Linked DNA regions of Homo sapiens: region 2 is linked to region 1. Evidence: fine-mapped expression QTL. A gene starts in region 1. The other region holds a variant in brackets. All regions are shown on one strand. Distances are between the middles of the regions.

Region 1 (15,659 bases):
GGCTTTCCGTCAGAGGCAGAAGGTATCCTTCACACCCAAGGACAACTTACAAACAGCTACGTACCAAACACAGCAGCAAAACAGAACAGAAGCAAGCTAGGGATTTGTCAAATTTCATAAATGACTTTCAGTAACATCTTTAAATTGACAAAGTAAACCAAGAGGTTGCTGAGTGTTTCTATCCTAAATACAAAAAACATGCTTGTGGTATGAAGTCCAGTTAAATACAGAAAAGCAGAAAGTGGAAAAAACAGGCTCATTTCCCCACTACGACAAAACTTAACACTGACACACATGAGGGAGTAATTCAGTCAGGGCTCCTCAGAGTTATTTCCTAGTTAATCAAAAAGTGGATCACTGAAAAATACTGAGTGTCCTATCAGGCTGCATTTGGAAATGATTACTGAGGTCAAACTAGACAGCGTGAATGACAGTCAGGTAAGCAGCCAGCCAGCAACTGACTTTTTAAACACCAACACTGCACATCAGCTACTTACTCCTGACAGCCTCCAACTACGCCTATTCTTCCATCTTGCCCTTTGTGCTTTGTGGAAGACAGAGGAGGTATGATATTTCTCACCAGCTGCAAAGTATTTTCCATATCCTTTATCGAATGTGCTTTACGTAGCGAAAACGCTCTTTCTAAAACTGAAAGACAAGAAAAATGAATAATTCAGAAAGGTAAACAGATATTGTTAGTACACATAATAGCCCATTAACCAAAACCCTCTCCAAAGTTATTACGAATGCTATAGATTTTTACCCAATGGATTTCTGTAAGCAAATATGATGTTCAAAATTACATTAACACATGCAATTTTTTTTTTCTTTTTTGAGACGAACTCTGACTCTGTCACCCAGGCTGGAGTGCAGTGGCGTGATCTCAGCTCACTGCAACCTCTGCCTCCCAGGTTCAAGCAATTCTCCTGCCTCAGCCTCCTGAGCAGCTGGGATTATAGGTGTCTACTACCACACCTGGCTAATTTTTGTATTTTCAGTAGAGATAGGGTTTCATCATGTTGGCCATGCTGGTCTAGAACTCCTGACCTCAAGTGATCTGCCAGCTGCAGCCTCTCAAAGTGCTGGGATTACAGGCGTGAACCACCATGCCCAGCCTGAACACATGTAATTAACACATATAGTAACACATGCTATTTATTTATTTATTTGAGACAGAGTCTAGCTCTGTCACCCAAGCTGGAGTGCAGTGGCACGATCCTGCTCACTGCAACCTCCACCTCCTGGGTTCAAGCGATTCTCCTGCCTCAGCCTCCGGAGTATCTGGGATTACAGGCACCTGCCACCCTGCCCTGCTAATTTTTGTATTCTTAGTAGAGACAGGGTTTCACCATGTTGGCCAGGCTGGTCTCCAACTCCTTACCTCAAGTGATCTGCCCGCCTCAGCCTCCCAAAGTGCTGGGATTACAGGCATGAGCCACCCCACCAGGACAACATATGCTATTTCTATCAGGTTTATTTTTGAAATGTATCTGAAATTTTGGAAGACCATTTAATTTTCCAGAAAGTTTTATCAAGTAAAAAAATGCATTATTACTTAATAAACTATCACTTCATTTCAATTTCCCTTTAGGATTATTAGGTCTTTTCTCTCCTCACAAACTGGAAAGCAAGCTCCCACCTGTAATCCGCTGGGGTGCTCAGAAGTCTGACAGATTCATCATATTACTCCCAACTGTATTCCAACACTCAACTGGGTATTAATTAAATAACCTAGAAATGGCATTCTAAATATGGCACACCTCTTAAATTGGGTTCAAAGTGGCATTTAATGTATTTTCATCATCTTGAGTTGTCTCTAAACAGCTACACTTCAATTGGCCTTTCTTGAAGAGCTTCCTGTGTTATATATTTTACCTTAATATTTAAAACAGCTCGGCTATGAGAGAAATGCTGGTATGTTCTATAGAGCTCAATGAATAAAGCATACATTCTCCCTAGAATGAAAGGATCTTTGCAAATATAAACAGTATTTTTTCAAACAAGGCACTCAATATTTTTATCCTTCCAATTATCTCAGCAGCAGAGAAAAACCAGTGTCACAAGTTCCACTGACTGCAGTCCAAAGCTCACTGAGCGTTTCACAGCAAAAGAGCTTTGTCTTTTAACTCTTACAGTTTTACTTTTTACTCAACAAAACTTTTGAAGGAATTTTCTTTATGAGTAGATGTAACTGCCTTAGCTGATAGAGCAGATGCTGGGATTCCCCAAGATAAAAAGATCCTATGAATCCCCATCAACCCAAATTCTTTTTTTTTTTTTTTTTTGAGACAGAGTCTCACTCTGTCGCCAGGCTGGAGTGCAGTGGTACAATCTCGGCTCACTGCAACCTACGACCCCCTGGTCCAAGCAATTCTCCTGCGTCAGCCTCCTGAGTAGCTGGGACTACAGGCGCATGCCACCACGCCCAGCTAATTTTTGTATTTTTAGCAGAGACGGGGTTTCACCATGTTGGCCAGGGTGGTCTCGATCTCCTGACCTTGTGATCTGCCCACCTCGGCCTCCCAAAGTGCTAGGATTACAGGTGTGAGCCACCGCGCTCAGCCCAACCCCAAATCTTTTCACCTTCTTCCAGACCAACACACAAGACCCGGCACAGAATCACTATAAACTGTGGGCCAAGGAGAGACACAATGAAGCTTGCTGAGCTACCTGCAGGGGACCAATGCACCCATCCTTGAAATCCCTCCAGGAGGGCTAAATTATGGTTTTAAAACAATACACTTGTCTAGAAGAGACATTTATGGGGCCAGGCGCAGTGGCTCCCCGCTGTAATCTCAGCACTTTGGGAGGCCAAGGTGGGTGGATCACTTGAGGTCAGGAGTTCGAGACCAGCCTGGCCAACATAGTGAAACCCCATCTCTACTAAAAATACAAAAATTAGTTGGGCACGGTGGTGCATGCCTGTAATTCCAGCTACTCGGGAGGCTGAGGCAGAAGAACTGTTTGAACCCAGAAGGTGGAGGCTGCAGTGAGCCAAGATTATGCCACTGCACTCCAGCCTGGGTGACACAGCGAGACTCTTGTCTCAAAAAAAAAGACATTTATGGGTATCGATCAGCATCCTGTCTTTGTCGTGGGGAGCTGTTCTATGCACTGAAGGATGCTGAGCAGCATCCCCGGCTTCTACCCAGTCAGCAGTGCATGTACACGCACCCAGTGGTGACAACCAGCAATATCTCAACACTCCCAAATGTCTTCTGGATGGGGCAAAATGAGCCTGGGTTAAGAACCACTAGTAGAGATGCATGCGTGTAGTTTTAGCACCTTTAAATATACCAGTACTTCAAATTAAATATTTAAGGTCATATAAAATATAAATTGTGACTTATGAAATCACAGAGAAAAACAATTTAGTCAGACTTCAACTTACGGATGTTAAAAATCAACATTTATATCAATGTACCCTGCCTGATGAAAACAACTCCTAAATGGTAATACTTCATAAATGTGTATTTCTCACAATAAGAAAAGGAATAAAATGGTTCCACCAGATAATACTGTATATTTTCCAGGAGGCTTCTTTCTCCCAATATCCAAGATTCATATCTTACAAACATCTGTATCTTAAATTTCAGATTTAAGTCTTAAAAAAAGTACTATAGGTGAGGTATGAAATATTTAATGTTTATATCAAAAAGGGCAAATACCATAAACCCACACTGAACTACCCATTTGCACTTTGCCTCATAGTTGAAATAACCTATACATTACCGGAAAGGATCTGACACAAAATTAAGCTGCAGCCACGAGTCCAGGTGGAGCACCTGTCAGGTGGAGGGGAGCACCAATGCCCCTCTGCAACCAGTGTCGCCCAGCACTCCCAGGAGGGCACAGCAGGGCCGCCTCGGGGTCACAACTGCAGCACCAGAGCTCCCAGGGATGCTGTGTTCCAAGTGCTTGTCCTCTCCGCATCTGCTCCCCAGAGCGGAAAAGCTTCCCTTCTGCGTCACACTCTGCTGAAAGTCCTCCCAGTACTTTTGGTACTGGGATAGCACCTTTCTGATCTTTTTGGTTGAGAAAGAGGAGATATGCTAGTCCAGGCAAGGATACGCTTAAAACCTACAGGCTTTAAAGCTAATACTGATTTTTGTTGTTATTCAAATAATGACAAGAACACATACAATTTTTCCTGCACTTCAAGGTAAGCTTTGTTAAAATGATAAGATATCAGGGGGCTCAAACATCGAATACAATATACGAATAAGGGCCACTTTCTAAGGCGGATTTTTCTACAGCAGGTTAAGCATTAAAGTCCCATTTACCACAAGCCAAAAATATCAATTCTGAGTGTGTAAAACCCACTGCATTCACACGGCAATCTTTATCATAGCTAGGAAGAAAACACGGGGGGAATCCTGTTCTGAGCTATTCCTTTATCTTATACAGAAGGTAGTGTTTTGAAGCCCAAAATGTGCAAACCACCTTCACAGCAACTTGATCAACCCACCAGCGGGAGTCGCCTCCTCCTGCTCCTGTTCCGTTGTGAAATCTTAAGACTTTGTGAGATTCCCAGTTCCCTGGCCATGATGCTACCGTAAGGGCTGGGTCTAAGAACCCTGGAGAACAAGAAGCGCCATCCAGAAACTGAATATTTCAAGATTTACACATGAGAACAACGGCTCTCAAATGGAAGCTAGCTTAAAATTATGTTAAACTCATAATATAATTAATAGTAACTTTTTTGCTACATAATTTTAAAAATTCAAAGTGATACCAAAAGTAACTATTATTACATGTGGGGTTCTGAAACCTTTCGAGCACACAGACAACCTACATGGTAGGGGCTGACCTGGACATAAGAAGGAAGTTCTTATGTCTGGACTGGCAGAGAATCAGCACCCTACTACTGCCTGCCCACGAGGAATGTGGCACCATCCGCAAGCTGCAGCACTGACTGCTTCCATGTGGGACTCAATCACCTCGAACACAGCCTGGCACAGAACAAGACACTTGATACATGTTCGATGAAGTCAAGACATCGTGATTCACTCTCCTCACTAGCACTTTATCTTTCTTTTACAGATAAGGAAACTGGGGCCCAGAGAGAAACCTGTGCAGATGCTGTGGTTAGTAATGGACAAGCCAGGCCACAAGACACTATTTTACCAAAGTGCTGCCATGTTTTTGTTTTTATTTTTGTGGGCACACAGTAGGTGTAAAATGCTGCCATTTTAAGGCAAAATAAGAAGTATAGCATTTTCACTTGAATAGAATTGTATTAACACAAAGTAAAATCCAGGCTGCTCACCAGCATTCACCTAAGATAAACAGCTTCTGTTAGCAAAAGGGCCAAAGCAGGTCAACTAAACTTCCCAGCACTTGGCAGTGAAGCAAGTTCCAGCTGGCTTACTGACGTCACCATTTGAACTTAACATTTCAAATGTTAACACAGAAACATTTACATATAAAGATCAAAGTTCTGAAGGATAAAAAGGCCTTGACAATAGGCGACTTAAGATGTATCCCATTCGGTAACTCTTCAGACAATTCTGAGTCTGGAAGAACAGGTTAAATTTGTTTGGCTTTTGTTTTAAGGAAGCGTGTCTGGGGAAGACTATCACTGCTGCTTTGTGCTAAAAGTGCTTTTAGTACTGGAAAATTCTACTTAAAAAAACAAAAATACTTTAAGTTAATGTGAGTTATAACTAATTTAGAGCATTTAACCACAATCCCTAAGTTAACTGAAATATTTCCTAAAGCCTCAGTAATATACAACTCTACCTGGCTTTTCGTAAAAGTTTAGGCAGTCTGATAATAAATCCTCAACCAAGCGCAATGAAAAATCTTGCTACTAATCACGGTGTGTGAATTTAAGGTAAAGAGCTACAAATAAATCTCTAAATAAAGTGTTAAGAAGCCTCCCTGCTGGTGTGAGTGAGGTGCAGTGTAGAGTACCCTCTCAGCGCCACCCAGTGCATTCTCAGTGTGTGCTGATGAAAACAAAAAGCCAAACTCTCTGACGATGCCCAACATACACACAAGGTAAAATCTATCTAATGACTACAGCAACAAATGGTGCGTTTAACCATTTCGGCCACTCACTGGCTGGAGAATCCTGGCTAAGTCACTTTCTCTGAGCTTCTATTTATCTTCTATACCAAGGTGGATAACAGCAATCTCTCCTTATGAGAAATGAGATATACACGAACTACTTCCTGTATAAAATATGTTAGATACACCAATACCAACAAGGCAAACAGAAAGACAAAAAAACCCTATGAAGAGATGGGGCTCCAAGCACTTGCTCAGCTCCTGTTTAAATTCTTTCTACCTTATCCGTTCTATTTGAAAAGGCATCTCAGCGTGCAAGGACCAGCCAAGGCCAGGGCAGGGCCCTCGGGGACATCTGGCCAGCACTTCAGGTTCTGGGGATGACTCAGGTGAGCCTCCCTCCCCAAGGGACCTCCTACACGCACACACACACCCCGAACCGGGGGCGGGCGAAGGAGGCCTGGCTGGTGGAGTCCTTTTCTGCGGCCCAGGCGTCGCAATATCCAGTCCCTCTCGTCCAAGGACGTGCAGGGTCTGTACTTGCCCAGTCGCACTGGGACTTCAAATTGGGGATGCAGACACGGCCCTGCTCCTGGTGTGCGCGAAGCCCGCTCAGCCGGCCAGCTCGCCTGCACGCCCGCCGCGTCCCTGGGCCCCAGGAGGGCCCCCGTATCCAGCTCCGACCAAACAGCAAGCCCGCAGTTGGCGAGCATCTTTCCCAGACCGGGAGCGGGGACAGAGCAGAGCAGACGGATCCGACCAGCGCACCACGGCGCCCCAGGGCCCTCCTACCGTCCTCGGCCCTCGGCCCCCCGTTCCCCGGCCACCGCGCGGGCTCCGCCGCTCCTGGGACGCGCACTGGCTCCGGCCCGGCGCCACCCTCTGCCCCTCTGTCACCCCGCACGGAGGCTCCCATCACCCAAGCCGCGCCCAGCCGTCGCCGCGCCGTTCCAGGAGGCCTCCGTCCTCTCCCTACTCCGCCCCGCAGGCCACACGGCGCCCCGGCCCCGCGCGCGGGCTGCCCCTCGGCGGCGCTTCCCCCCCGCGAGCCAGCAGAGGCGGTCAGCGGTCGGGTACCTGCGTCCAGTGGCGGCCCGTACAGCGCGAGTGCGGCCGAGAGCAATGCGACAACGACCGCGCCGGCGACGGCAGTTCCGGCCCCCGCGCGTGTGACCATCCCCGGGCCAAATGGAATCGACCTTACCTCGTCTGCAAGCCCGGATTGCCCCACAGCGAGGACCCAGGGCCATCGGGCAGCATTCCGGATTCCCAGCTGCCCCCGCGCCGTCGCCGGAAACACAGCCATTGGAAGCGTTTTCCGGTTTCCCGACCGCCTCCGCGCGGCTGTCGGCAGTGGGATCCCAACTCGCTCAATCACACCCGGTTCTAGATGATTGACAAGCGCGACGCCCAACCCGGCCTGGTCCCAGCTCTGGCCTAAGAGGTTCGGCTGGAAGGCAGGTTGAAGAGTTAACAACGATCTGGTTCAGGGTCTGGTTTGTGTTTATCGGCCCATTTTTAGGCTTGCGGCGTTATAGAAAATGATTTTGCTGGCAGGTGGAGTGCCGAGGCCCACTATGTGCCCCCAGTATAGCAGTCAGGTGCCTTTCTGCTCCAGGCGCAACCTCTGCCCTGAACCCCAAACCAGCTCGCTGCGAGGCCCCTTCGCTTTCCACCGTCTCAGGTCAGGGCAGCTCCATCACTCCAACGCTGAGGCCCAAACCCCTGGAAGGCATTCTGACCTCTCCTGCCCTCCCACCCACGCTCCTCCTGTGGCTGATGGCCTCTTACCTCCACTGCCGCCCTATTTGAAGCCACCGTCATGGTGCTAAAAGAAACTTGTGGGGCCAGGTGCGGTGGCTCGCGCGTGTGATCCCAATGCTTTGGGAGGCCAAGATGGAAGGATCGTTTGAGCCCAGGAGTTTGAGACCAGCCTGGACAACATAAGGAGACCCCCTTCTCTACCAAAATTTTTTTGGAAAATTAGCAGGGGATGGTGTGGCACACCTGTAGTCCAGCTACTTGAGAGGCTGAGGTGAAAGGATGGCTCAACATGTCAGAGGCCTTTTAACCAGAGCGATTCCATCTTGAATAGGGACTGGGTAAAATGAGGGTGAGACCTACTGGGCTGCATTCCCAGGGGGTTAGACATTCTTGGCCACAGGATGAGGTGGTGGGCACAAGATACAGGTCACAAAGACCGCACTGATAAGATGACACAGTAAAGAAACTGGCCCAAAGCCTACCAAAACCAAGATGGCCACAAAAGTGACCTCTGTGTCCTCATTGCTCATTATTTGCTGATTATAACGTATTAGCATGCTAAAGGACACTCCTACCAGCGCCATGAGAGTTTACAAATGCTATGGCAACATCAGGAAATTACTCTATATGGTCTAAAAAGGGGAGGAACCCTCAGTTCCAGCAATTGCCAACCTCTTTCCCAGAAAACTCATGAATAATCCCCTCCTTATTTAGCCTATAATCAAGAGATAACTATAACTATGTGTGGAGTTAGTTCCTGCCGGTGGGTTCATGGTCTCACTGACTTCAAGAATGAAGCTGCGGACCTTCACAGTGTTACAGCTCTTAAAGGTGGCATAGACCCAAAGAGTGAGCAGCAGCAAGATTTATTATGAAGAGGCCGGGCGTGGTGGCTCATGCCTGTAAGCCCAGCACTTTGGGAGGCCGAGGCGGGTGGATCACAAGGTCAGGAGATCGAGACCATCTTGGCTAACACGGTGAAACCCTGTCTCTACTAAAAATACAAAAAATTAGCCGGACATGGTGGCGGGCGCCTGTAATCCCAGCTACCCAGGAGGCTGAGGCAGGAGAATGGCGTGAACCTGGGAGGCAGAGCTTCCAGTGAGCCGAGATCGGGCCACTGCACTCCAGCCTGGGCCACAGAGCGAGACTCCACCTCAAAAAAAAAAAAAAAAAGATTCATTATGAAGAGCAAAAGAACAAAGCTTCCACAGCATGGAAGGGGACCCAAGTGGATTGCTGCTGCTGGCTGGCGGGGGTGGGGGGGTGGGGCAGCTTTTATTCCCTTATTTCTCCCCTCCCATGTTCTGTTTCTGCCCTATCGGAATGCCCTTTTTTCAATCTTTCCTGCAATTGGCTACTTTTAGGATCCTGCTGATTGGTGCGTTTTACAGAGCACTGATTGGTGCATTTTACAATCCTCTTGCTAGCTACAGAGCGCTCATTGGTGCATTTTACAATCCTAGCTACAGAGTGCTGATTGGTGCATTTTACAATCCTCTTGTAAGACAGAAAAGTTCTCCAAGTCCCCACTCGACCCAGGAAGTCCAGCTGGCTTCAAGTCTCATAAGTATATTCAGTCAAGCAGCCAGTGCCACTGCTCTGCCTATGGAGTAGCCATTCTTTTATTCCCTTTCTTAATAAGTTTGCTTTCAATTTATGGACTCGCCCAGAATTCTTTCTTGCACAAGGTCCAAGAACCCTCTTGAGGTCTGGATTGGAACCCCTTTCTGATAACAGAGTGAAACCCTGAACTACACCTACCAGACCAAACCAGTAAGGAGTTTAACTACAGTAACTGAGCTTTACTTCATGGCAGGAAACTCTGTAACCAGTTAAGCAATGAAGTTATAATCAAATTAGCTGTCTCCATCACACACTTCTGTTTCCTATAGGTGCTGTCAGATCAGGTTCCTGATTGGAGTTCTCTTATCTGCTCTGGTTTGGAGGGCTGCCCCATTCGGGAATCTGTTTTGTTTTGCTCAAATACACTCAGTTAAAACATACACGTGTCTAAGGTTTTTCCATTTAACAGTGTGTGGCCTGGATGATGGCAATAGTCTGCTGCATGAGTGTCAATGAAAAGAGTCAAACTCTAAAATATTCGAGATTTATTCTGATCCAAAGATGAGTGACCATGGCTTGTAACATAGCCCCTGCAGATCCTGAGAACATGTGCCCAGGGTAGTCGGGCTAAGCTTGGTTTTATACATGGTAGGGATACGGAAGACATCAATCAGTACATGTAAGAAGTACGTTGGTTCAGCCCAGAAAGGTGGGACAACTCCAAGAGAGGAGCTTCCAGTCATAGGTGGATTCAAAGATTTTCTGATTGGCAATTGGTAGAAAGTTTACTTAAAGACTTGGAATCAGTAGAAGGAAGTGTCTGGGTTAAGATAAGGGGTTGTGCAGATGAGGCCTCCAGGTAGCAGGCTTCAAAGAGAATGAATTGTAGATGTTTCTTTTTGTTGTTGTTGTTGTTTGAGACAGAGTCTCACTCTGTTGCCCAGGCTGGAGTCCAATGGCACAATCTTGGCCCACTGCAACCTCTGCCCCCCAGGTTCAAGCGATCCACCCTACTCAGCCTCCCAAGTAGCTGGAACTACAGGCGTGCACCACCACACCCGGCCAATTTTTGTATTTTTAGTAAAGACAGGGTTTCACTGTGTTGGCCAGGCTGGTCTCCAACTCCTGACCTCAAGTGATCCTCTGCCTTAGACTCCCAAAGTGCTGGCATTACAGGTGTGGCCCACCTCACCTGGACTTTGTAAATGTTTCTTATCAAACTTCAGGTGCCGGACTCTTAGTAAATTATCTCCTGGATCAAGAAAAAGACCTGGAAAAGGAAGGGGAGTCTCCTCAGAATGTAGATGTTTTTCCCCAAAGAGACAGTTTTGCAAGGCTATTTCAAAATATGCCAAATGAATATATTTGGGGTAAAATACTCCAGTTTCTTTCAGGGCTTGCAATCTGTCACATTGGTATCTTATTGCTACAAAAATTCTGCTTTGTCAGTCTTAAGGTCTCTGTTTTAACGTTAATGCTGGTCAACTGTGCCTGAATTCCAAAGGGAGGAGGGTATAATGAGGCATCCATCCCCCCTTTCCATCTCGGCCTGAACGAGTGTTTCAGGTTTACTGTAAAATGCCCTTGGCACCCTCCCCAGCCTCTGCCTCTGTCATCACATGATGGTCTCCTTGTCCTCACGTGGGATTTTCCTCTCCTTTAAGGACACCAGTCATATTGGAGTAGGGCCCACCCTAATGATCTCATCTCATCTTAATTCAATAATCTATAAAGACCTCACTTCCAGTTACGGTTATAGTCACAGGTACTAGGGGTTAGGATTTAACATATTCTGAGGAGACACAACTCAACCCATAATACCTTCTGTTAATAAATTAACCTCCCTGCTTTCCTACAGCAATAGAATGATCTTTCCTATAAGTCAGATCATGTCACTCCTCTGCATAGAACCATCCAACTGTTTTCCATGACACTCAGATTAAAATTAAGGTGCATTCCATCACTCTCCGACCCCTATGTGATTGGCGCCCCCAATCACCTACAGCTGTCGGAGGTCTCCGGAGGGTCTCTGGATGCCACTGAGACCCCAGCCCCAGCCAGTTTCCAAGTTCTTGACACCAGCATGAGAAAGAATTCAGGGACACGTCAGAATGAAACGAAAGGCAAGAAGCTTTTACTGCAAAGCGAAAGCACACACGTAAAAGAGAATTGCGGGCGTGCTCAGCAGAGTGAGTCACATCAGAGTTTGAGTTTCTAATTTTATGGATTTTTTTTTAATTAGGGGGTGGAATAATCATAAGGTATTCTGGAAAAGGAGTGATTTCAGGGACTCCCTCCCCCCATTACCACAGACTTTTACCCTTATTCAAGTTTTCCCAGGATCATGGACATATCACCCTGACCAGGATTTGACCATTTTCTCTTCCTTATTTTGGGTTTTCTGTTAACCTGCGGTTTCTTTGCCTCGTTCTTATTCTAGCTGTTGTTTGGGTTTTTCCATCCTCCTGTGACCACCCAGTGCTATTCCCATTTCATTTTCCCCCTTGGAGATTTCCATCCCTTCTTCTTTTATTTATTTTCTTTCTTTCTTTTTTTGAGACAGGGTCTCACTCTGTTACCCAGGCTGGGATGCAGTGGCATAATCATGGCTCACTGCAGCCTCCCCTTCCCAGGCTCCAGCGATCCTCAGACTTCAGCTTCCTGAGTATCTGGGACCACAGGTGTGTGCTACCACGCCCGGCTAATTTTTGTATTTTTGGTAGAGATGGGTTTTTGCCATGTTGTGCAGGGTGGTCTCAAACTCTTGAGCTCAAGCGATCTGCCTACCTTGGCCTCCCAAAGTGCTGGGATTACAGGCATGAGCCACCTACCGTGCTCAGCCATTCCATCCCTTATTCTTGAGGGAGATGAGGGAGGAGGTCAGTCTTCCGTGTCATCTTCCTGCTGATTTAAGAGCACTGGCCCTGCCTACCGAGGGCATGGGAATCTCCAGCTGCTTGATCTAAGGGTCCCCAGGGGACAGCAGGAGCGTCTGATTCCAAGACAGGAAGCAGCTGGAACCCTAGCTTGAAGATCACCTTTACCTAGATCTGCTGTAACCAGAGACAGGCACTTTACAAGCAAGTTGAATATGCATGGGCCAAATATTAACGATGAGCTCACCCTTAACGGGCCCAAAAGTGGTAAAAACCAGGTACTAGAAGGTACAGCAGCTTTAACAGCATCCCACATAAAATCAGCAGGAGGGTTTTTCTTTTCGAGGGTGCAAAGGCATTTTGCCTGGTCATTTGTGCCTGAATTCCAAGGCATGGGGGAAAGTGGAGTGAGGCGTGTCTGACCCCCAGCTTTCCATCATGGCCTGAACTAGTTTTTCAGGTTTTTTTTTTTTTTTTAATTGGATCCCCTTTGGGCAAGAGGCGTGTCCATTCTACTAGGGAGGATGCAGATTTTTTTTAGTTTATAGTCCGCTTTTTGTAAAGGTATGCCAGAGGCAGTGTCAATGGCCAAGCTTTTATTTTGTCCCATATTGATGCCGGGGGGGGGGGGGGGGGGGGGGGGTGCTACCTGTGCCAGGTCTATCATGTCCCTCAGTGGGACCCCTACGGCTAAGGGACTTAGAGTCAAAAGACTTATAACCAATTAATTATTCTAAGCCAAATGGAATGGAAGTGCGCAGGCACTCATTAACCTTCGAATCTCTTTTAAGCAACATAAGAACCAAAAACCAAAAGCCAAAAGACAAGGTAACATAATTGACTTATTTATAAATTATGTGCATTGAGCCACCATAATCTGGTTTGTAGCAATTAGCTATACAAAACACAAGCATTTTGTTAAGCTGCTGAGGCATCTCTGTGACCATTAATGACTGAATCCATTAATTCAGTTGGAGGATCTGAATTAATTTTATTCCTCAGAATTGGCCCTTACAATCTTATGCTGGGCCTGGAGGGATTGTATAGTTCAAATTCTGGAGGCACAACAAACGCAAGGAGCTAAAAACATTTTAAACAAAAAGGTCACAAGCCCTGCCTAGTTTTGCAAATGATAGAAAAAAAATTAAACCTTTAAATTATTTAGTATCTAGGCATAGAATAAATATTACATTATTTCAAATAAAGGCAAAATTATTAAATGAACCTTTTTTTTTGAGACGGAGTCTCGCTCTGTCGCCCAGGCTGGAGTGCAGTGGCGCGATCTCGGCTCACTGCAAGCTCCGCCTCCCGGGTTCACGCCATTCTCCTGCCTCAGCCTCCCGAGTAGCGCCCGCCACCACGCCCGGCTAATTTTTTGTATTTTTAGTAGAGACGGGGTTTCACCTTGTTAGCCAGGATGGTCTCGATCTCCTGACCTCGTGGATCCACCCACCTCGGCCTCCCAAAGTGCTGGGATTACAGGCGTGAGCCACTGCGCCCAGCCTAAATGAACCTTAATGTATTTGAATACAGGCCTGTCCCTGTGTTTCATGAAAGCAGTTTACTTTGAGTGTCACCTTTGCCCAGGTCTAAAGATGAGGCTTTGGTCATCTTGAGTTTGGTGTCAGTTTCTGGTAGGAGTCAGTGCGTTCTTCAGATGCGACATGTGTACCCAGGAGTCAAGGCCCTGCAACTTAACAGCACGAAAATTAGTTAATAGACCCCGATAAGGACTCCCTCAAGGGGCTAAGGGAGTTCTTCAGCTGATTTGCTTCCAGTAAATGTAATTATCAGGCCAGAGGTGGTGATAGTGGAGTTCATGGTCTGACTGGAAGCTGTAAAAATGTTCACAGCCGGACGAGGTGGCTCGCGCCTGTAATCCCAGCACTTTGGGAGGCCGAGGCGGACGGATCTCTAGGTCAGGAGTTCGAGACCAGCCCGGCCAACATGGTGAAACCCCGTCTCTACTAAAAATACAAAAAATTAGCTGGAACGTGGTGGCACGTGTCTGTAATCCCAGCTACTCGGGAGGCTGAGGCAGGAGAATCACTTGAACCCGGGAGCCGGAGGTTGCAATGAGCCGGGATCTCGCCATTGCACTCCAGGCTGGGTGACAGGGCGAGACTCCGTCTCAAAAAAAAAAAAAAGTTCTACAACCTTGCAGCAATTAATTTTTATAGATTTAATAAGCCCCAGCAATAAGACACCTCAGAGACTTAATTTAGGATTTTGATTTTGAGGACGTTTATTAAAGATGTTAAAAGGCTCAAAACATCTGATCCAAACAGAAGCACAGGTCATTGTAAAATAATAGTTACTTACTTAACAAAAGTGATAATCAAAAGACTTTAAAGGCAATACAGAAGGTAATACGGATGTAAAAACCTTGACCCTTTTACATTTCAGATTTTGCAATCAAAAACCTAATAAAGACAGCATGAGAATTATAAAATCTTGTCTCTTAAGCCAGTTACCAAAAAAGCAAAGAAAAATCTGCAGTGACTGCTTCTCCTTATGAGAAGCCCACTTAGATAACCTGGAAGTCAAGTTTGATGAAAAAGTACTGGAATTTAATCAGACACAGGAAGAGTGTGTTCAAGGTTATGAGCATACCACGGGAATACATGACTCTTAGGAACAGCATGAGAAGTTTCTTGATTACACTGAAAATTTAGACATATCAAAAAAAGCCTAGAGTACAGAACGGAGGAAAACAATGTTTTCTGTTTTGACCTTCAAGATAAAACATTTCAGCCTTAGGCCGTAACAGTAAAATTGAAACCAGAAGAAAAAAGTTACAAGAGCTGACAAAAAGGCTGAGTTACCATCTCAGGCCTTCTCAACAGAGAAAAGGCAGAAACAGATTATAGAATTATTATGAAAAGCAGAAGTTCAATTAATTTTATTGAGAGCAAATCAATACTTTAAAGAAGCTTTGTTTTAACATACAGGACTATTATAAATGATTTCCTTTTTTAAAAAGTCCATTAAAACATTTTTTTTTAAATTTTTTTCTAAGAGAGCCTGGCTTTGTCACCTAGGCTGGAATGCAATGGCACGATCTTGGCTCACTGCAACCTTCGTCTCCCAGGTTCAAGCGATTCTCTTGCCTCAGCCTCCTGTGTAACTGGAATTACAGGAATGAGCCACCATGCCTGGCTATTTTTTGTATTTTTAGTAGAGACGGGGTTTCACCATGTTGGTCAGGCTGGACTTGAACTCCTGACCTCATATGATCCGCCCACCTCAGCCTCCCAAAGTGCTGGGATTACAGGCATGAGCCACCGTGCCTAGCCAATTTCCTTTTAATTATAACCAAGTTGCCTCTCCCCTCTCCCCTCTCCCCACGGTCTCCCTCTCCCTCTCTTTCCACAGTCTCCCTCTGATGCCGAGCCGAAGCTGGACTGTACTGCTGCCATCTCGGCTCACTGCAACCTCCCT
Region 2 (14,257 bases), 21 kb before region 1:
TGTCTGGGCCCACTCTGGGCTCATATTTCTGTAATAACAAAAACTGTCTTTTATCATGGAAGCAATAACTGAGGGGTGTGTGAGGTTTAAGTAGTTTGACACCAAGGTCAAATGTTGTGTCTGTTTCTTATTTTACACACATGGATTTAACAAATAGGTACAGCTGCCCCTTCCACACCGCCCCAGGATCTGTTCTCAGTGGGAGGACAGCGCGAGGCCTTCTGCGCAAATCCCGTCCTCAGCACCTGAGGCTGTGAATCTCAGACCATTTGCCGAAACACACGTGTGCAAGCGCTCAGTCGCTGCCCCCCAGCCTCATCCTCAGGTTGCTCCTGATACCTCGGCCACAATTGCGTGAGGTCTGGAAGCCAGGGAGCGTTTGTGTTCAGGGCGGGGCGGCATGCAGCCCCCAGCCCTTTCTTCCAACTCCCGAGTGAGGATCACTCAGCCTTGCTTGGACGACAGATGCTCAGAGTTGAGTGGAGCCTTGCCCAGAGCCCAGCGCTCGCGGGCTGTACCCATCCCTGCCAGACCCAGAAAGAGGCCCAGCTGCAGGGAATCAGGGAAGCCCAGGGCTGGGTGGGTGTCGGCCCAGAGCCCAACCACGGGGTGGGGAGGGGGCATCCACAATCCACAGTCTCCGGGGGACGTAACCGCGCCCTGCTGGCTTCAGTACGTTTCAGGAGACGGCAGCGAGGCTACCTTGCATGGTGTGGTGGACGAGCTGGTGCGGTTCCGGCAGAAGGTCCGGCAGTTTGCGCTGGCCATGCCCGAGGCCACGGGGGACGCCCGGCGGCAGCAGCTCCTAGAAAGGCAGCCCCTGCTGGAAGCATGCGACACCCTGCGCCGGGGCCTGACTGCCCACGGCATCAACATCAAGGTGAGTGCCGCACCAAGGTCAGGGACATCACCCCAGGAGCCGGGTAGGTCAACAGGACGTGGGGCCATCAGAGGCCCAGACATCCCCCGTGACCATGCTTTTTTTTTGAGACGGAGTTTCACTCTTGTCACCCAGGCTGGAGTGCAATGGCGTGATCTCGGCTCACCACAACCTCTGCCTCTGCCTCCCAGGTTCAAGCGATTCTCCTGCCTCAGCCTCCTGAGTAGCTAGGATTACAGGCATGCACTCCCATGCTCGGCTGATTTTTTATTTTTAGTAGAGACAGGTTTTCTCCACGTGGGTCAGGCTGGTCTCAAACTCCCGACCTCAGGTGATCCTCCCACCTCAGCCTCCCAAAGTGCCAGGATTACAGGCGTGAGCCACTGCGCCCTGCCCATGCTTCTGAGTAGAGAAACCCACCCCCATAAAAAATGAGGTGGGAGGGCCGTGAGGGAGGGGCCAAGTTGGCTGCAGGGGACGCTGAGCACGGGGACGTGGGTCCTGCTCAGCCCCCGCCACCTCCTGCAGGTGCCTTGAAGCTCCTGGCCTTCTGCTGGAGGTAGTGGGGCCCTTTCTAAGCGCCTGGCAAGCTTTTTAGGACAGGCCGGTGAGGGAACAGGCACCCTGAACCTGATTACGCCTGTCAGCCCCCTGTGCCACATGACGTGGTGTCTGCTCAGAGTTGGACCTCACTCTTCTTCTCCAGGACAGAAGCAGTACAACATCCACGTGGGAACTGCTGGATCAAAGGACAAAAGACCAAAAATCAGCGGGCTGAGGATGGAGCACAGCCATGAACCTGCTCACGACAAGACGCACCCATGCTTCTCAGGGTCAAGGCTTTATGTTAAAGCTTCCTGTCGGGGCTGCTAGGTCAGCATTAAAGTAAGGCAACCAACAGTGTCCCACTGGCGTCTGTTTGTTAGTAACTGAGCCTAAACACTCACTGCGTTCTGTGGCTACAGACTCACCGTCGATTGAGTGAAGTAGTGTCAGACATTCAGTAGCATCCAGCAGCACACGTGCCTGTGCGTGAGACCTGCTGGCCCTGTGCCCAGGGAACAGACAACACAGCCAACAGAAGAGCAGGGACCCCGGGAGGCGGCAGAATGCAGCCTGTTTCCTCCTGAGGGAGGGGCTGGGGATGGGTGAGGTGGGTGGGCCACGCAGCATAGTCTGAAGCAGAGGTGGGACGCCAGCAATGCTAACCCCGGGACACCTCCCCCAGCAAGAACACAATCTTACGTTTTCTCTCTGGTTACAAAAGTAACGTATTCAGCATAGGAAAAATGCAGCTGAGAACCCGTCTGCAGTCCCGCTGCAGTTAACATCCTGGCAGCTGCAGGCCATCTTGGTGGTCATGGTCTGTGCAGAGCAGTGATGGGGTCGAGCTGGGCCTGGGAAAGGTTGGTTCCGGAGGAGTCAGGGCAGCCAGGCTGAAAGCCAGCTGGCGAGCTGTGACAGACAGGATTCCTGAGCGGGAGGTGGCGGCCAGCACACGGCAGGCTGCCTGGGCTACAGGACCGGTGGCCTCCTGAAGCACCCACCTTGCTCCTGATCTCACCCTTCTGTGGTAAGCCCAGCGCCACAGCTGTCAGTGACTCAGCAGGGTGACCCCTCTCCACTCTTCCTGCTCGCAGACCCTGGGCCAGGCCTCTCCCTGTCACACTGGCATCTCTGAATCCCAAGGGCACAGGCAGCAGCGGGACCCGTGACTGGGGATACGGGCTTGCTCATCATTTAACCGTGACCCTGAGGTACAGGTCTCCTGTCTACAGTTCAGAAGTCACTCACCTAGAAAATCACCCTAGTAAAGCTACCCACATAGAAAAAGTCCCCAGAGGGCTCCTTACAATGAGGCATCTCGACAGGGCTGCTCAGTACTGGGGCATTACGGGCCGCCCACCCCCCCACACTTTCCCGTTGCTCTCCTGGTCCAGGGAAGCTCCTGGGAGCGTGTCCGGCTGGAGCGAGTGCGTGAAATACGTGGGTTTGAGAAAGAACATGGAAGCAATGAGCTGCTTGTAAAAAAACCCATTCTCTCCTTTAAGCAAAGGGATGTTTTACTTAGAACAAAAACCAGACGAATAGTTCCTGTGACTGCTGAATTCTATTTCCTAAGGAAAGAAGGGGCTGCCTTGGGCTTATCCTTCAAGGTGCTTTATTGCAGCCACCACGGGAGAGGCGCTGGCGAGGAGGCCAATCTCACACAGACAGGCTTAGATATTCTTATCTCCCTGGCATCTCACACAATGTCCTCACCTAAGAAAGTTGAAAGGTGAGCTTTAGCTGTTTAAGGAAAAAAATACAATACTCAATTTAAATTAACCAGATCTGTCTTTTAATAGTTACCAGAATTTAGATGTTAATTCCCCAGAGGAAAAATGTCCATGGCACAGTTTTTCTGGAAAAGTTCACATGTAGACAGTGAAGCTTCTGAAGTTAGGCGTCAAATTAGTAGTGACAATCTTTTTTTTAATCTTGAAAGTCCCTAGTTTTAAAGAAAGTAGAATCCATCTGGGGCATGTCTGCATCACAGGGTATCACTCAAGAGTCATCATCAGGCCAAAAAGACTCTGAAGGGAACCAGGAGGGTTTGGCCCTTGCTGTGGAAAGATGCTACTGAAAGTATAAGAGAACACCCTAATGCACGCGTCAGGCACGAAACCGTACCATGCCCCGCTAAGACATGGGACCAGAGAACACGTCAACGTCAGGCCGCTCCAGGAAAACCATCCACAAAGACAACAGAAGCTAACCCGAGGTCGACACTGCCATGAAGAGTGTTGGCTGAAACCGCAGTTACCAGTGTCTTTACTGGACGCGAACATCCCTAAGGACACGGCTGTGCTGCTTCCTAAGCATACGTGACCACGATACTGTCTTTCCCCGGGTCTCCTTAGCGCCATCACTGCACCAGGCCCAGCATGCCTCAAGTCCTCCAGAGCCTTCTCCTGAGACAGCACTAGGGGCCACGTCAGACCCCAGGCTGCAGCCCTTCACCGTGCCCGTCCCCGGTCCGGTCTGCCCTGCTGGGGCCGGTGGGTATCATGGGGACCCCTGTGTAGACACGGACACCGGAGAGCGTGGGACAGGAGGCGTCTCAGAGCTCCCCACCCACACACTCAAGGGTCAGCGTCACTCATGTTTCCTTCTGTTCCCATGGTGCCTCCAAAAGGGTTTCCAAACAAAGTCATCATTGATTACCCTGGAGTATGTCAATAAGCCAAACACCAGCAGCCAGATACCACCAAGCTAGTCACCACTTTAAAAGAAGATGAGCTGGAGAACGAAGCAGCCCTCTGATGGACCCAGTCAGTGCAGTCGGGACTCAGGGAGACACCCGGGGACCCCTGCCCAGCTCCCTGCCGGAGGAAAGACTAGGGAAGGGAAGCAGAGGAGGAACGAAGGGCGCCGGCAGAGAGAGTAACAAGTAGAAACTTCGCCGATCTGGGAGCAGGCCGAGAAACTCTGTTGAGCTGCTAAAGAATTCTTCATTCTCATGTGATTTTCTTCATTTCTGTCTTCCCAGTTACTACCAAGGAGCTAAGGAAAGTTCAGGAATACTTTGTTTAGTGTCGCCATAACATCTCCAACCATGCATTAAGTTTAACCAAAAGCTGCAATATTCCAGATTCTTAAATTCTCAATGGCAACCAATTTATGCTCAAGTTGAAAATCTGGCAAGCACCGTACGCCTTCAGCACACGCGTGGGTCCGGATTTTCCCATCACACACACGCTCTCCCCCGTCCAAGGTGCCTGTTTACTTCTGGTCTGCGCGGGCTCAGGTTTCAAAGAGCTTGCTGAAGGCGGCCCCCACCTCGGCGATCATGTCGGAGGTGGTGGTGGAGCGACCGTGCTTCTGGAAGGCTTGGTGGTTGCACTGCCTGGTGAGAGAGCAGGCGCCAAACGCGGCCACCAGGAGAGGGCTGGACCTGCGGAGAGGGGGACAGCAGGAGGTGTGGGGAAGTGGGCGTCGTGGTCCGGGGGCCGCAGCTACCCTGGGCTCTGGTTTTGACTCCTGTTTCAATCTCAGGACCCCAAATTGTCAATTTCAAGTCTGATATGCCCCTGAGGAGAAAGCAGGTTTATCACAGCGAAAACCACCATTAACCCTCCACTACTCCCTGGCAGGAGGCACACAGGAAACGTCTATGTACTCGGAGACAGGTCCAGGGCTAGGGCACACAGTGGGCCAGGTGTTCCCGGGGAAAGCCAGGCGGCACAAGCTGCTTAGCCCTGTTTGACTGTGCTCTCAGTGCCCAGGTGCAGAGGGCATCTGAGGTCTGAGAATGGGGATTCCTGCTACCAGGGCTCCATCTCCTGGGGGAGGGGTGGAGGCAACTCGAGTGAACACAGCAGAATGAACAGTAAGACTCCTGCCCACACCCCTACCTCCTCGGCTCTCAAATTCATGTGGACACACCTAGTTTGGGGGATGGTCCCAGACTCTGCCATCCCGGCAATGAGGACACATGAGGCCACTGGATGACAGCCCTGCCCACCCTCCAGAAGCCCGGGTCTGCCACACCTAGCACCTGCAGCCACCACCTTGATGGGCTCACAGAAGAGAAATGGAGATGCTTAGAGGTATGGGAACTGCTTGCATTCATAAAGTTCTCTGACTACAGAACTGGGCCAAGGGCCCTGGTCCTAGAATTCTGCTGTCTCTTAAAGAAAATTCACATCTTTAAGAACAAGTGTCTAAGTAAGCCTTGACCCTGTCTGTTTTCTATCTTAGTATTCTGTGTTACACAGAATAAACCACTCAACTTCCCAGAACAGCGTGCTGCTGGGCCTTGGTTGCACCTCGGAACTCTCTGGAGAGCTCTGAAGACCACCCCTGCCCCAGGCCCCATCCACAGTGAATGATGGACAGGCCCAGGCCCAAGTGTGGGGTGGAAGCTTCTGCCAAGAGGGTTCGTCTGTGCCGAGATCTCTCCAGTGAAGCCTAGAGTTCATTGTCAGTGTTTCCAGGGCTACTTATTCAACGCATGAGCTACTGAAACAGCTTAGAAAAATCAGACGGTTTCAAAGTAGAATAAATGAAGACGTGGCCTTACCCATTTGTTTTCTGTGGTCCAGCAAGGAGCGCCCAGTGTACCAGGACGCCCAGGGAGCCCGACAGGAGGTCCCCTTGCCCTCCACACCTGCGGCTGCTGCCTTCCTGGCTGCACACAAGCACTGCACAGGGCAGAAGTGAGAGCAGGTGTCAGCATGGCCATGTGTGTGAATGTGACAGTAGCCACGGGTGTGGAAGGCCGCACGGCAGGCAGAGCCACACCCTCCAGGAGCAGCCTGAGGCTCCACTCACATCCTGCCTGCTACGGCTCTTCCCTGTTTGTTCCAAGGGTTGGAGGCAGCCTCTGTTTTACAGAAGAGGAAACCAAGACACGCAGTGGTGAGGCTGCCCCAGACCCCGCTGTGTAGCACAGCAGGTTGGTGGAGACACCTGCAGCTCGGAACCGCCTCAGACGAGCCCAAGCAGGCAGCTCTGAGCAGGGCGGCGCCAGCCTCCAGCTCCTCCCACCAGCTCCCAGGGACGGAGCCCTCACCTGCAGCCCACACTCCAGAGTTCACCTTAAACCACAGCTCAACCATACAGGGCAACACCGAGCGAGGCCTCCACCGGCCTCATAACGTCACGTATGCCTGTGTATGGGAATTCTCTATTTCTTTGAAAAATGTTTTGAAAACCAGGTGTTACATTCTCTGAACCTGTTAGACCCAAGAGAGCCTTCCAGTGATTAAAAAACCCTCATCTCAAAGGTG[T/C]CAGAGTCCCTCTGAGAACATCTGCTCTGTGTTCCTTGTGCACAGCTGTGTGTGGATGAGTGTGCGAGGGCGTGTGCGAGGCTGTGAGCATGACCATGCATGTGTATAAGTGCGAGTGTGCAAGGGCGTGCGAGGCTGTGAGCACAACTGTGCATGTGTATGAATTGCATGCGTGTGCACATATGTGCATGTGAATGTGAGTGTACAAGTGTGGATGTGCACACACCCGCCCACAGACGCCTCAGTGTTCTACCCTGATTTTGGTACCTAGTCCAGCCCCACAGCTCAGCAGGTGAGCACATTCGCTGCCCATCATCTGTCCAGGCCTGAATGGAGGGGCTTCCATTTTCAGCGCTAACAAGGGCACGGCTCCCCAGATGCCTCGCTGGCGCTGGGCCCGGCCTCTGCCCTGCTCTCACTTGGCTCTTGCTGAAGCCTCCCCAGGCTCCGTGGGAGTGGCCAGTTGAGACTCGCCACACTCAGTGCCTGAGATTCCACTACCAGCATCAGCTTCGGGGCTTTCTGCACTTTCCAGTCATTTTGATAAAAGAGAATGAAATGCAATAAAATACCCAAATAACTGCATGGATGGTGGATGCCACAGGTGAGATGAAGGTGGCAGCTGGAGACGCGGGACCCTGCACTGTGCCCTGCTGTTGCAGGCACCCTCCCGCCAGACTGCTTCTCATAACTGAGGCAAGGGAATTCAACCAACGGGTAAGGCCCACGGCTCGAAAGCCTGCCCTCACCACTGTCACCTCCCCTGGCAAAACAGTGAAAAGTCAAAACATGGACTCTGAAGAAAGTGTGGTTGACGAGCTCATCAGGAATCCCTGTGTGAATGTGTGTGAACACGGGTGTGCACGGGAGAGGTCTTCCAGGGCTCATGCTCGGTGTGGCCATGCTGACTGACCTGGCACTGGCCCATGCACAGAGGGCAGCCGCCACTCACCCTGCTGGCCGTTGGAGAGGATGTCGCGCTCTCCTTTCTGGACCACCGTCACGTTGCCCAGGGCTTGGCTGAGTCTTAGCACAGATCCATGGCTGTCATCGCTGTCCATAGGGCCTCTGAGCTATGACAACACAGGAAGACAGAGAAAAAGCAAAGTCTTCCTCAGACACACGACGACAGATAGCCCTGTCCCATCCGCCATGAGACTCATGCTCTCGTGTCTAAAGGGATCACCCAGGCACCTGTTAAAGGCCATGTAGGTGGGAGGATGCCCAGGATATCACCTGCAGTGAGTCCTCCGAGCAGGTGCTGACACGGTGCCTGCTCCAGTGCCCATCCTCTACCTCATCAGAGCAGGCTGAAGGAGGACCACCCAAGACTGGGTTCTGAGAGCTTTGCAGGAGTAATACAAATTCCAGTCGTACTGGGCACTAACATTGATGGGACACTTACCATGTGGGGACTCACGGCTTTACATAGGTTTCCTCATCTCATCCTCACAACCCCGTGAAGCTGATGCCATCATCACATTACAGATGAGGCACTCAGGACACAGACAAAGTGACCTGTCCAGAGTGCACTGCAGGAGGGGCTGACTGACCCGAGTCCCTGCCTGTCCCAAGCCCACTACACCATCGTTCATCCAATCCAAGCGCATTAATGGGAAGACGCGCCATCCGCTGGGAGAGGCACAGCGATTACTTGCAGGTGTGTCCACAGGGACAGGCTGGGCAGAAGCATGGAGCTCGTCCTTCACCCTCTTCAGGACGAACAGGGCTTGCATCTACCCTCCAGGGGGTCCACTGACTCACCACAGCGTCATACAGTCTGCTGAACTCCACGTGGTTGGGAGTGAGCACAGCCTTCCGGTAGCCATGGATGAGGGCCGGCTGCTGAGCGACCAGCCACAGGCCATCCTGCACAGAACAAGGAGCCGTGCTCACTGCACAGGCCTTCCGGGAGTCCGAGCCAGGAGGAGAGAAGTCAACTCACCGCGTCGATGACAACAGGGATGTCCCTGGCCTTTGACACTTCCAAAATGCCCTGCCAGAAGAGAAAACCAGACTGAGCACCATGCCTGCTGCTATGGTGTGGGTATGTGTCTTCTCAAAACTCATGGTGAAACTTAATTGCCAAGGGAAGGGTCCTGGGAGGTGGGGCCTTTAAAAGGTGATGTGGCAGTGTCCTCATGGGTTGGTTTAATGACCTTTAAAAGAGGCATAAGGGTCTCTCTCCTGCCCTTCTGCCCTCGCCAGATGCCGGCACCTTGATGTTGGACATCCACCTTCAGAACTGTGAGCCAGTAAACGCCTGTTCATTATCAATTACCCAGTCTGTGGTACGGCTACAGCAGCGCAAAACCGACTAAGACACTTTTCCCAAGAGTGACAGAAAATTGAGCAGACTCTTAATAAAATGCAACATCAGGCCATCAAACAATAAATGGAAAATAATCAAGTAAATGAATAAAATAGAGAAGCAGAAAGACCCAATGAACTCGCAGAGCCCGTAAACAAGGCAGGACACTGGGAACTCTGAAAGGCGAAGCCCACTGGAAACGCTATGAACAACAGCTGGGCTCCTAGGCTAACCCATGAAGACAGCCCCCGCCCCAGCAAGGGCATCCAGTTCTCCAACAGATACTAATACGCAGCATTCGGAGGCAGGAAATCTGAATTCCTGAGAATTCCCCAAATCATTAGTCATTATGTATTTTTCATATCACTTTACTTACACGTTTTAAAATAACAACAATAATAAACAGGGAATCATTTTTCCCTGATAGGATTACAGTGAAGGTTTCAAAGGTTTTCTATTAAAAAAAAAAAACTACATGTATAGATACACACACATATATGTAATATTTGGTGGTTTTTATTATTATGAGCCAATACATTGTGACAAGATTATACACTGCAGTAGCATGTAAAGTGATCCTGACTTGACAGACACCTGATAATACAAAACATTAAAATAGAAAACATTAAACAAAATGAGAGGTGACAGCATGCTGGCAGTCCTCAGAGCCCTCGCTTGCTCTCAGCACCTCCTCTGCCTGGGCTCCCACTTTGGCGGCATTTGAGGAGCCCTTCAGCCCACCACTGCACTGTGGGAGCCCCTTTCTGGGCTGGCCAAGGCTGGAGCCCACTCCCTCAGCTTGCAGGGAGGTGTGGAGGGAGAGGCGCGAGCGGGAACTGGGGCTGCCTGCAGCGCTTGCGGGCCAGCTGGAGTTCCGGGTGGGCGTGGGCTTGGCGGGCCCCGCACTCGGAGCAGCCGGCCAGCCCTGCTGGCCCGGGGCAATGAGGGACTTAGCACCCGGGCCAGCGGCTGCAGAGGGTGTACTGGGTCCTGCAGCAGTGCCAGCCCACCGGCACTGTGCTCAATTTCTCACCGGGCCTTAGCTGCCTTCCCGCCGGGCAGGGCTCGGGACCTGCAGCCCGCCATGCCTGAGCCTCCCACCCCCTCCATGGGCTCCTGTGCGGCCCGAGCCTCCCCGACGAGCACCACCCCCTGCTCCACGGCACCCAGTCCCATCGACCACCCAAGGGCTGAGGAATGCGAACGCACGGCGCAGGACTGGCAGGCAGCTCCACCTGCAGCCCTGGTGCGGGATCCACTGGGTGAAGCCAGCTGGGCTCCTGAGTCTGGTGGGGATGTGGAGAGTCTTTATATCTAGCTCAGGGATTGTAAACACACCAATCAGCACCCTGTGTCTAGCTCAGGGTTTGTGAGTGCACCAATCAGCACCCTGTGTTTAGCTCAGGGTTTGTGAATGCACCAATCGACACTCTGTATCTAGCTGCTCTGGTGGGGCCTTGGAGAACCTTTATGTCTAGGTCAGGGATTGTAAATACACCAATCGGCACTCTGTATCTAGCTCAAGGTTTGTAAATACACCAATCAGCACTCTGTGTCTAACTCAGGGTTTGTGAGTGCACCTATCGACACTCTGTATCTAGATGCTCTGGTGGGGCCTTGGAGAACCTGTGTGTCGAAACTCTGTATCTAACTAATCTGATGGGGACGTGGAGAACCTTTGTGTCTAGCTCAGGGATTGTAAACACACCAATCAGTGCCCTGACAAAACAGGCCACTCGGCTCTACCAATCAGCAGGATGTGGGCGGGGCCGGATAAGAGAATAAAAGCAGGCTGCCCGAGCCAGCATTGGTAACCCGCTCGGGTCCCCTTCCACGCTGTGGAAACTTTGTTCTTTCGCTCTTTGCAATAAATCTTGCTACTGCTCACTCTTTGGGTCCACACTGCTTTTATGAGCTGTAACAGTCACCGCGAAGATCTGCAGCTTCACTCCTGAAGCCAGCGAGACCACGAGCCCACCGGGAGGAACGAACAACTCCAGACGCGCTGCCTTAAGAGCTGTAACACTCACCGCGAAGGTCTGTAGCCTCACTCCTGAGACAGAGACCACGAACCCACCAGAAGGAAGAAACTCCGAACACATCTGAACATCAGAAGGAACAGACTCCAGACGCGCCACCTTAAGAGCTGTAACACTCACCGCGAGGGTCCACGGCTTCATTCTTGAAGTCAGTGAGACCAAGAACCCACCAATTCTGGACATAAAAATACATGCTAAGAATAATTTAAAGTATTGAAAACTAAAGCCGTGTATATTAAATGAAATTTGAAAGCTGACAAAGCATTAGCTGCTCGCCTAACAAAGTGCTCATTTCAGCCTGTTTATGACGCACATTCCAGCCATAGGAAAGTGTGTATTTGGCTCTGACACTGGTCCGAGCATTAGCAGTGTGTCCTGAAGCCCCTTCCAGGGAGGCAGGTACCTGAGACTTCATGGAAGTTTATTATTCCCTTTATTAACAATAAAAATTCTTTGTCTGCTTGCCCTGAGTTTGGCTTTACTGTTAAAACTGGCAGGCTTTTGCTAATTCAGATTTTAGATCAGTTTCTGATTTCATGTTGCAGTATTTGGCAACAATCTGACATTTTCATCTGTTTCTGTGTTTTCTTTTAATGTATTTGCAAATAGTACTCAAAAGTGAATATTCAAACCCTGGAAAATGCAATGTTACATGGGTCTCCTAGAAAGGTTTGCAGCATCAGAGCACCCAGCGCAGAAGGGTGTCCCCACCCATGGGAAAGCAAACCTTGGTACACTAGGGAGAAATCTGGGGGCATCTCTCAAAAATTTAAACGTCCTTACTCTGATTCAGCAATGGAACTTCACCCAAAAGAGTGCACAAAACACATAGATTCAGGACACCACTGATGTTAACATGAAGAAAAAGCTGAAAACAGTGTAAATGAACTAAATACACTGTAGTAGATCCATAAATTCTGATGTGGCTGTTAAAAATAATGAGTATCCACATATCCTTCCATGAAAAAGTCTCCAGGACACACTGTTAACGAGTGTGCAAAGAGCACAGTGTGAGGACAGGTGCATTGGTCAAGAGCCTGCGCTCCAGATTCAGACAACGTGGGTTCAAAGCCAGCCCAGGAACCAGAAGACTTAATGTTGTTAGACATTCCCCCAACTGATCTTCAGTTTCAACATCATCCCTACCAAAGTTGCGGCTGCCTATTCCACAAATCAGCAAGCTGATCCAAAACTGGAATGCATGGGACCCAGGAGAGCCAAAACAACCTTAAAAAGAGCGAATTTGGAGGACTCGGGCTTTCGACGTCAAGGCTTCCTACACAGCCACAGCAGTCAAGACCGGGCAGTTGCAGGACAGCTGTACAGATCAACAAAACAGAAACAACAGTCCAGAAATAAGCCTTCACATTTAGGGTCAACGGATTGTCAGGGAGGATGACAAGTTGGGAGGAAAAAGGAGTCTCTCCAGCACATGGTGCTGCAACAGCTGGACACCCACAAGCAAAAGACTGACGCTGGAGCCTCCTCCTACCACACCAGCATCAGCTCGACATGCACCGCAGAGCTAAAGTAACAACCAAAACAATAAGGCTCTTAACATGTAGGAGTAAACCTTGGGTTAGGCAGAAGCTTCTGAGATAAGACACCAACAGCACAAGGGACAAAAGAAAAAACAGCTAAATTGGACTTCAAAATTAAAAACTGTGCTGTAAACAAAACCATCGAAGTGAAAAGACAACCTACAGAATGAGAGGATATCGGCAAATCGTCTCTCTGATAAGGAACCTGTGTCTAGAACGTATATGAAGAACTCCTAAAAGTCAATAAAAAAAAGGCAAAAAACAGTTTTCAAAGTGGGGAAAGGGTATGAATAGACACTTCTCCAAAGAAGATACCCAAAGAGGCCAGGCATGGTAGCTCACGCCTGTAACCCCAGCACTTTGGGAGGCTGAGGCGGGCGGATACCTAAGGTCAGGAGTTCGAGACCAGCCTGGCCAACATGGTGAAACCCCATCTCTACTAAAAATACAAAAATTAGCTGGGTGTGATGGTGGGCGCCTGTAGTCCAAGCTACTTGGAGGCCAAGGCAAAGGAATCACTTAAACCCAGGAGGTGGAGATTGCAGTGAGCCAAGATCACGCCATTATACTCCAGCCTGGGTGACAGAGTGAGAATATGTCTCAAAAACAAAACAAAACAAAAACAAAAAAAAAGATACCCAAACAGCCAATGAGCACATGCAAAGATGCTCAACAGCATCAGCTGCCAGGAAAACGCAAACCAAACCACAGTGAGGTCGCTCCACGCCCACTAGAGTGGCTGCTAAGTAGACAACAACAGTAACAAGTGCTGGGAACGATGTGGAGAATCAGAGCCCTCGCACACTGCTAGAGGGAATGGAAAATAGTGCAGCCGCTATGGGAAACAGTGGCAGGGCCTCAAAATGTGAAACACTTAACACCCAGGAGAGTGAAAACACATCCACACAAAAAGTGGAAACCAATTTTCCATAAATTAATCAACAGATAAACCAAAGGTGGTGTATGCATACAGTGAAATATTAGATATAAAAAGGAATGGAATACTGATACATGCTACAACACAGGTAACTCTAAATATAAAATTATGCAGAGTGACATAACTAATCACTAAATAGCACACGTTGCATAATTCCATTCATATGAAATGTCCTGAACAGGCGAATCCAGAGAGACAGAAAGCATACTAGCTGAGTGGCTGCCAGGAACTGGGGAGACTGGGGAACAGGGAGCAGATGCTAACGGGGATGGGCTGCTTCTGGAGGCAATAAACATATTCTAAGGTTGATCATGGTGATGGTTGCACAACTATGAATATACTTGAAGCCACCGCATAGTTCACTTTAAATGGGTGAGGGGTATGGTAGGTAAATCATCTAAATAAAGTCGTTTTTAAAAAACCATCTCTGCAGTTTCTTTGCTACCAGATCCCACGGGCGTCTTGAATCCTTGCCAGGACTCAATCTGTCATCAGAAGAATGGGGCTATGAATAGGAATCTACCTAATCGGGTTGTTTTCAGGCCTACACCAGATGATGACCTCATTCAGGAACGTCGACGAAGTAGGAAGCCTCTGCTCCGCACCAGACACGAGCTGGAAGCTGACGAGGAGGCGGCAGCCCACGCTAGATGACCTGAGGGCTCTCAAGACCACGGCAACAGTGTACAGGAACCAGAATGCAAGGTCCAGAGTCTGGGCTGCAGGGGCAGCGACGCACACCCTCACTTCCCACCTTTCACACTTCCACGCAGTA

The links. PIP is the estimated chance that this variant, and not a neighbour inherited with it, causes the effect. A credible set is the group of variants that fine-mapping cannot tell apart.
Region 2: its variant is the best candidate, but not a certain one, in a credible set for the expression of NAXD in whole blood (INTERVAL, PIP 0.64).

What each region holds. Positions count from the first base shown.
Region 1 is chr13:110,607,205-110,622,863 of GRCh38, reverse strand. It overlaps NAXD (NAD(P)HX dehydratase), which reads right to left and starts at 7,319. Exons shown (of 10, transcript NM_001242882.2): 1 at 7,217-7,319; 2 at 498-648. The coding sequence starts at 7,262. NAXD-AS1 (NAXD antisense RNA 1) reads left to right here and starts at 6,511. Exons shown (of 1, transcript NR_182301.1): 1 at 6,511-9,782. RefSeq lists enhancers at 6,290-6,339, 6,360-6,409, 7,311-8,238, 11,550-12,050, 12,051-12,551 and silencers at 6,690-6,849, 6,860-7,109.
Region 2 is chr13:110,628,938-110,643,194 of GRCh38, reverse strand. NAXD (NAD(P)HX dehydratase) reads right to left here. Exons shown (of 10, transcript NM_001242882.2): 6 at 8,600-8,650; 7 at 8,419-8,523; 8 at 7,607-7,727; 9 at 5,946-6,066; 10 at 3,199-4,817. The coding sequence ends at 4,667. CARS2 (cysteinyl-tRNA synthetase 2, mitochondrial) reads left to right here. Exons shown (of 15, transcript NM_024537.4): 14 at 674-880; 15 at 1,587-1,778. The coding sequence ends at 1,658. Among named protein-coding and RNA genes, the nearest start is that of NAXD-AS1, 20 kb to the right of the region's middle. RefSeq lists enhancers at 5,655-6,483, 7,314-8,142, 8,143-8,972, 9,967-10,629. The variant T/C (reference allele first, on the strand shown) is at 6,655.